2 separate regions of the Homo sapiens genome follow, and region 2 is reported to be linked to region 1. The links are microRNA targets in miRTarBase. Many come from high-throughput screens and were not tested one by one. Region 1 holds a microRNA gene; the other region holds the end of a gene's coding sequence.

Region 1 (4,400 bases):
CAACCTTCTTAACCTTTCTGAGCCTTTGTCATTACCTATTAAATGAGGATGATAACAGAACCCATCTCAAAGGGTGGATATTAGGTTTAAATGAATTAATACAAGTGCTGGCCAGGTGTGGTGGCTCATGCCTGTAATCCCAACATTTTGGGAGGCTGAGGTGGGCAGAACACCCGAGGTCAGGAGTTCGAGACCAGGCTACCCAACATGGTGAAACCCTGTCTCTACTAAAAATATAAAAATTAGGTGGGCATGGTGGTGCACCCCTGTAATCCCAGCTACTCAGGAGGCTGAGGCAGGAGAATCGCTTGAACCTGGGAAGTGGAGGATGCAGTGAGCCGAGATGGTACCACTGCACCCCAGCCTGGGTGACAGAGCAAGACTCTGTCTCAAAAAAAAAAAAAAATTAGTACAAGTGCTTAGAATGGTGCCCAGCATACATTAAGCTCTCAATGCTATTTGCCATAGTTATCAGTGTTATTGACACTTTGTGTTGAAAACACAGACATTCATCTTGGTATGCGTCCTGGTTATCTACTGCTAAGTAAGAACCACTCTAAAACTTAGTGACTTCAAACAGTACTTTATTATGCTTCATGGTTCTGTGGTTTGACTGGGCTCAGCTGGGTGGCTCTCACTTAGGGTCTCTTGTTTTGGGTCTCATCAGTTGATGGCATGAGAGTTTATGTGATGGCCATGATTGCAAAATACAGTCAGCCACAGTATCACAACACAGAAGAAATTCAGACATCAGGTGGTGGTTAAAACAGAAGACATGAAAGGTCCTATCTAGACTTAGGATGAGATGAGTCTAATTATTCATTGAGTATCTGCTGTGAATCTCTGTGATGCTGGTGCTGTAAGGGATGTGAAACGCAGAACTATCTTCATTCTCACAGACCTTACGATTTATCTAGGGACATATAATTAACATATATAGAACAGTTGAAGAACAGTGGCATGGTAAATTTTTTGTTTTGTTTTGTTTTGATACAGAGTCTCACTCTGTCACCCAGGCTGGAGTGCAGTGGTGCCATCTCGGCTCACTGCAACCTCTCCCTCCCAGGTTCAAGCAATTCTCCTCCCTCAGCCTCCCAAGTAGCTGGGATTACAGGCATGTGCCACCATGCCCAGCTAGTTTTTTTGTGTGTTTTTAGTAGAGGAGGGGGTTTCACCATATTGGCCAGGCTGGTCTCGAACTTCTGACCTTGTGATCTGCCTGCCTCAGCCTCCCAAAGTGCTGGGATTACAGGCGTCAGTCACCACGCCCGGCCCATACTAAATTTTTAGTGCAATAATTTATCAGGGTAGAATTTACTCTTAAATACCTCCTATGGCTTACGTGCCAGAATTCAGTTTGGGGGAGTTCCTTAGAGATGTTCTCATAGAAATCTCTACAGAAGCCCCATAACTTATCATCCACCCTTTCCTCTTCTGTCCTGCATTAGGAAATATGATTCCCTGATTCAGGATCAGCCCCGGGAACTGTCTTACCTACGGCAAAAAATACGAGAAGGGAGAGGTGTTTGTTATCTTCTCACCCAGCATGCAAAAGATACAGTAAAATCTTTTGAGGATCTCTTAAGGAGCAATGACATTGACTACTACCTGGGACAGAGCTTCCGGGAGCAACTGGCCCGGGGAAGCCAGCTGACAGAGAGGCTCACCAGCACACTCAGCACCAGTAGGTTGGCCACAGGGCTTTGGATACTCTCAGTCACCCCACAGTTCCAGCCCCTGGTGGCCACCACATCTCCACTGCAACTTTTTAACGTAGGGTCCTGTTTCTATTTCATTTCCTGGGGCTAATACAGGATCAAGACTGCTCAATGGGGAGCATGGAGAGGAACACACAGGGCTGGAGATGCCATGGTTACAACTCTAGAAACTTCACCACTCATGGAATGTGACCTGTGGGGCAGGGGCGGCATCTCTCTGGTGCTAAGAGGGAGTAGGGGACATGACATGGAAGGGCCTTGTTATAGGAGGAAGAGCCGTGAGCTAACAATTGCAAGACGTCGAGGCGCTGAGGCCAAAGGGTCCGTGAGGAAACAGGCGCAGCTCGCGCCCCTCGGCCTACGGGAGGGAGGGCAAGGAGAGTCCTACGGTTCCTGGGAGGACGAGAAGAGCCAAGAGCCCCGACGGCCGGCGCCGGGGAAAAGGCCCCGAGGCGGGGTCCGCATCCCTGGAAGGGCGGCGTCCACCCTCCTGAGAGGCACGGGGCGCCCAGGGCTCGGACGCTCAAAGCCCGCCGGCTCCTGCAGCTTCTGGGAGCCGAAGAGTGTCAGCCGGGAGGATCCCGCACACGGCGCTTAGTTCTGGAACTGCATACCCAGGGGAGGATGCGGGAGCCCGAAGCCCGGGTATGTGTCCCCGAAGCCCGGGTGTGGGTCCCCATGGTTTTCGTGTTGGGGGTGGGCGCGGAACGCTAAGCCTGGGCCTATTGGGAGCCATAGTCTTCTTGATGGCTGGTGCTTATTGGGCTTTTTTCAGTCGAATTTCGAAATGCAGTTGAATTTCTTACTTTGGAAACGATAATAGAAATGGCTGACCTAAGATTTTCATGATGATATTTTGCCTTTTTTGGTGTATATGCAGTTTCTGTGGTGTAGTGGTTATTATGTTCGCTTCACATATGAAAGGTCTCTGGTTCGAGACTGCGTGGGAACATCGTGTTTTGTTTTGTTTTTTTGTCCCTAAATTTAGTGAGTTTAATCGAGGTTGGGAAACAAACAGAAAAGTAGTTGAACCTGTGGCTACACTTTAGACCTCCTCAATCTAGACAGATCGTTGACCAGGCTACAGTTTCCACTGGTCTGCCAGCAAGAGGCCTGCTTAATATTAGCTTTGGTTCCAGAAATTCCTTCAGGTTCTCTTCATTCTCTTCTATCGCCTGTATTTTCACAGGCTGACACTGAAAGTGGATGACATCTTAGTGCATTTCCTAAGGGTCCCGCTTGGCTTCGCTTTACTCTGGTAAGTTGCAGATCTGGCTGATTTGCAAGACAACAAAAACAAAATATTTTTTAAAAAGGTTCTAAATCTGCATCTGGAAGTCATAGAGTCAATATTCCTAAATCACATGAATTATGTGTATACATTTGCATGCATACCCCTTCCCCAAATAATCCTCAGAAAACCGGTTAAGTTTTAGCATCTGTGACTCTGAGATGCATATGAGGCCTTTGTAAATTTAGAAGTTAAGAGTAGAAAGTACAGGTTTGTATTTTAGAAGGAGATTTGGGAATAAATATAGCTCTGGTGGATATAGATCATATGTTAAGGTTTGTTGGCCAGAGCTGGTTTGTGTCTTGGGTGTTGGGCAAAGAACAGAGAACAGCCAAAGCTCTGCGAGGTCAATGTGAAGGGTGATTTCCTTGGTGGGCTCAAGTTTATGACGCAGCCTGGACCTAGCTTGGCTTCTCAGCTAGAGAAGAAGCATGATTCCATGTCACAGCTCCTGTCTTTGAAAAAGTCATAATGACTCCCAGACCCAACATATGGAGAAAACTCTGGATTTGTCTCTTCAGTTGAATGTTTCCAGAGAAAATTGAGGAAAGAAATCTCTCTACTATTTGAACTTCATCAAAAGACTAATATGCTAATATTTGACCGTCAATATTTCCTTAAACTAGTCTACTCCTTACATAGCTAATACATCAAAGCATATTAACTTAGGAAATGGGATTCTCCCAAACAATGAAACATTGACGGCAAGCGTTCTTCATCTTTTCATATCACATTTCCTTCAAATGCTTTATACATCTTCAAGCAGACAAATAATAGTATTATAATGATTACGAGACTGATCGTTACTCTTTTGCCAAAAAAACCAGCGACAAAAGACTAACTTAGTGGACCAACCTTTATTTCTTCATTTTCTCTACCTTGGTTCTGTCCTTTTATTTCCTCTTTCTTCTAATTCTGCTTCTGCTACTGATTTCCTCCCTGGATTTGAACTTTACTTACCTAAACTACCAGTTAGGTTACCTTCTTAGAACCTCTAAGGCAGCAGTTTGAGGTTGACGATGGAAGATTTAGGATTAGAAAAAAGAAACGTGAATGAATTTCTGATGTTTTATTATAGGGGTTTGTAATGCAGGTAGAAAGAAGGACCTTTTTCAGAGTTAAGAGTTTGATCCGACAAATGAGCTATTTTGATATTTATAACGTTGTCTAGTAAAAGTTTCCTGTAAAAACACATTTGGTTTGGATGTCTTTGTTAGCTTTTAGTCGACACTTGAAAAAACCGCTTGGAACGGTTTCTAAGTCTTTGTGGATACTCTTTTCTGTTATCCTCCAGGCGGTAGTTACGCAGAGGCATTGGTGGTTCAGTGGTAGAATTCTCGCCTCCCACGCGGGAGACCCGGGTTCAATTCCCGGCCAATGCAAAAGGGTCT
Region 2 (4,400 bases), not on the chromosome of region 1:
GTACACGTTGATTATCAGTCCTGGTTGAATAAATGCCATTTGAGATCAGCATTTCCCAAAGTGTGTTCTTTAGAATGCTAGTTCAGTGGGATATAACTAAGTATTAACATTAAAAGAAGAAAAATGTTCTCAGGGTCAATTAAGTCTGGAAAATTCCCTTTCAACTTTTTACATATTTACAGTAGAACTTTTGTCTTTAATATGCAAACATGCATTAAATTATTTAAGAGAGGCTGGGTGTGGTGGCTCATGCTTGTAATACCTGCACTTTGGGAGGTGGAGGTGGGTGATCACCTGAGGTCAGGAGTTCAAGACCAGCCTGGCCAACATGGTGAAACCGTCTCTACTAAAAATATAAAATCAGCCAGGTGTGGTGGTGTGCACCTACTTGGGTGGCTGAGGTAGGAGAATCACTTGAACCTGGGAGATGGAAGTTGCACTGAGCTGAGATTGTGCCAAAACTACAAAATTAGCTGGGTGTGATAGCATGCATCTGTAGTCCCAGCTACTGGGGAGGCTGAGGCAGGAGAATCACTTGAACTTGGGAGGCAGAAGTTGCAGTAAGCCGAGATCGTGCAACACTGCACTCCAGCCTGGGCAACAGAGCGAGACTCTGTCTCCAAAAAAAACAAAGAAAAAAAAAGAGAGAGAGAGAGAGAGAACTACAGCACACAATTTAGAAAACTTATTTCATCACAGCAATAACCTTCCACCTGCCTAGTATCTCACTACAATAAACATGCTGAAACAGGCTGCCTTAGACATTACTTTTTATTATCTCTCTTATCCATTAGTCTCTTCCCCAACTTCGTTAGCCTTTCTTCTGGCTCCCATCATTTTTTGCCTGGACTATTTTAGGTCCCCCTAATTAATCTCCAACTTACTCAATTTATCCACTATACCATGACAATTATCTTTCTAAAACTGATACTGATTAAATTGTTCAATATACATGCATCCAATAACAATTTTCAAAAACCAAAATAAAGACTTAATACAGCATACAAGAACACTCCTGATCCCACCACCCATCTGCTTCTTCAGCTTCACCTTCTTCAACTTCCTATCTTTCCAAGTGGCCCACTGGCAATACCGCAATTACGCTCTACCCCCAAGTCTGGAATTCCCTTGTCCCCCTGAACCAATGAGCATTCATTCATCTTTCAAAACTCATATTTTCTACAAAGACTTTCCCAACTACCTACCTCCTTTTCCAGAAAAATAGGGCATTCTTTCTGATGTCCCTAGGTATAGTATTATTGTACTTTCATATTATCTACAGCAACTGTGACTGCTCACTTGATAAAAATTTGCCTTAAAAATATGTCTAGCCCTTTAAAATAATAATGTACCTATGTTAAATTTAACACCGTTGAAAATTTCAAAAACTGTTACATTTCACTTAAGGTGATGTATTTTGAATAATACAATTCTGACCTGTAATATGCAAACTTTGCGGGTTCAGAAGAGGAAAAACTCCTACTTTTTAGTGATGAAACTTTAGCAAATTTAGGCTGTAGAAGATATCTCAAGACAATAGGCTGGGGAAAAGTATACCATGAAAAAAATATATTTTATGATTTTTTAATACTTAGACATTACATTCCGTATCAAAATTTACCAACATGCTATTCTATAAATTCATGTCTTTTTACCATAGTTTGATTTTTTTTGTTTCATGCTAAAAAGCCCACTCTCATAATTACCTTTAGTATACATTACCTGGAATATAAAAATTTCATTAAATGTTGGCAAACTCTTCCCCATGACATGTAAAACAATTAGAAATGTCTAGTTATAAATTTTCTTAAGCTAATGAGCAAAAGAAAAGCCCCAATACATTGGCATTTTCACTTAACAGTGGCTCATAGTTACAATGATCAGAAATAAACCTACTTGCTACTGTGCTATATAGGGCAGTTTTGCCAAGTGCCCACCTTTAAGAGCTAGGTCAATTTCTAAGAAAACTGTATGGAAACATTCAGTTGTTAACAAAAATTTAATATTAAAATTACTCAGTTATTTAAATTATTGTTAATTTAGGAAAAAGAAAACCCATGTATTAATCACCCATAAAATAACTTTTATTTTAATAAATAACAGTGGGCTCACCAAAGGGCAGGGATTTTAACGTGTCAGGTTTTATGCTTATTGGTAGTAAGTCTTAAACAGGTGAAATGAACTATTCAATAAAACCCAAAAGGCCCTAAAAATAAAATACTTTAATAATAAAAATTAAAAAGAAATTTCCAAAAGAAAATAGTTCACTCCTTGACCATGCTTATTTATTCAGAGTACCAGCGATTTCAGTAAGTGCTTCATTTTTCCTGCAAATCTGATGTTGCACAGGGAATGTACACATTTTCATACCATCACAATATCATCAATATCTCAGGCCAATAATATTGTGAATGCAACTGTTTTATAACAAACACAAAATAAAAAAAAACAATGTTACTATTTACGGCAAACAGAAACAAAAGTAAATATTGCAAAGATGTTTTCTTATGTTTCTACTACTGATTTTAGTTGGACTTTAAATGAAGGTCATCAACTCTCCTGGAATAACCTCTACCTCTCGCTGTGAATCCACAGTATAAATATGGTGAATAAAGCTAAACTGTAAGAGCTAACTATATACTGAATAACCAAAATAATTATAACTAATACTGTTCTTGAAGACCAATCTAATGAAAAAAGTATCATTAGATATGGTGAGAAATACAGACAAATCTGTACAATCTAACATCTATAAACAGTAAAATCAAAACATCCAACTTCCTTATAGAAAGTGTTTTATCTATGTAATTATAAATGTTAAGGACTCTTGTATTTTATAAACACAAGATGGGCTCACTTTGATGATATCAATTTTAAGATTTATAAAAATGTTTAAAAAAATCTTTCCACAAAACTTTATACAGTTTAAAGCTATACACCAATCTATAAATCTCAGAAAATGGAAAACAAAACAAAACAAAAAATCTTTATAAGATCACATGTATAAAACAAGAAATGAAATGTGATTTTATTTAAGGCAATACTGGGCTACTTCACAAATCACCACCTCAAATATTTACACTGCTCCACACTACTAGTTTTCTATCACATTCACAAAGGATTTTTTTTTAATACCAAATGTTTAAAATCTTCAATGTAGTAAATTCTTTATTCACATTTCCATTGTATTTCATGGACTCATAGTAACTATATCCAATTAGAAGCAATGAAAAAAAAAAACTGTAGCTATAGGAAACTGCTAGAGAATCTGCTTTAATTTCACATGAATACCACCCCAAAATCCTGGATGGCAAATTTACAAAGCAGAGCAAAGTGTTGATATAATGTGCCTATTTTGTGAAAAGTAATCTTGATATCATCTTGTAAATAAATGTTTCATGTAAAAATCAATGAACTATGGCAGAGTTTCTGGTTTTAGTTCAAAAAGTTCTTAATTTAAAACAATAAAAGAACAATTTAAAAAACTTGATCGCTTAGTTAAAAATTAAAATTCCAAATATAAATGTGTCATTTAATAGTTTAGACTTACAGACTGCTGGTGGCAGCACATGATTTACAATAATAAATATATACAAAAAAGGTATCTACAAATAAAGAGTACTGTTATACATGAGCAGTGACCTGGTGAAACATACCAATCACACAGATAATTGTTTAGTTCATGAAAAGGGCAACTGGGTGATAGAAATTTGAGGTTTAGCTCACTATTTACAATAACTGAAGTACTGATTCTGTTCCTCAAGTCCCATAGGGATAAAAAAAAGTTTTACATGACAAATGTCATGTTTTTTTTTTCTTTTTTGTTTTTGGCCAGGTTAATTCATGTCAACAACAAAAAAATATAATGAAAGTTTCACAATTCTAGCATGCTTGATGGCTTCCTATTTAAAATAAAATGGTAAATGATGTATTTATACTACATTAATTATCAGTACTGACCTCTGCCTGTGGCTTTACCTATACTGATATCTTTCATAACAGACATATCTGGATCATTTGAATGTACTTCAAGTTTTTTCAGACTGACGGTAGGTTTCATTTCCTGAAGTTGCTTTAAGACAAGCTCAGTGCAATCTTTAAGATTCTTGTCTAAAACAATTTTTACATTATCACTGCACTGAAGCTGTGATGGATTGGCAAACTGTACAAACGTTTCGCTTTCTTTACAAGGACATACATGATTTCCACTAGTCACAGCAGTCTTATCAATATTTTTTCTTGAATTTGAATGGGATCCTTTTTTGTTTCCAGTATTCGGATGGTCTTTGTCAGTATTTTTCTTCTGCTTCACTGCAGACTCCTCAAGAAACTTCAGAAATGATACTTCAAATCCCATTGGCTTAAAAGAGCTCCAGTCAAAAGATGCAGGATGCTCCTCA

Evidence for each region. The annotated mature microRNA hsa-miR-3675-3p reads CAUCUCUAAGGAACUCCCCCAA and lies in region 1 at 1,358-1,379, opposite strand. An mRNA with a match to its seed (bases 2 to 7 or 8) in the 3' UTR can be bound and repressed. Matches are read on the target gene's strand: a 7mer-m8 pairs with bases 2 to 8, a 7mer-A1 pairs with bases 2 to 7 and ends in A, and an 8mer does both.
Region 2: miRTarBase lists ZNF292 as a target of hsa-miR-3675-3p. Seed matches in the 3' UTR shown: 7mer-A1 at 776-782.

The regions. Positions count from the first base shown.
Region 1 is chr1:16,857,601-16,862,000 of GRCh38, forward strand. MIR3675 (microRNA 3675) reads right to left here and starts at 1,421; the gene lies at 1,349-1,421. TRG-CCC1-2 (tRNA-Gly (anticodon CCC) 1-2) reads left to right here and starts at 4,321; the gene lies at 4,321-4,391. It also overlaps the pseudogene PDE4DIPP9 and the pseudogene TRV-CAC11-2.
Region 2 is chr6:87,261,351-87,265,750 of GRCh38, reverse strand. ZNF292 (zinc finger protein 292) reads right to left here. Exons shown (of 8, transcript NM_015021.3): 8 at 1-4,400. The coding sequence ends at 3,950. Among named protein-coding and RNA genes, the nearest start is that of SMIM8, 59 kb to the left of the region's middle.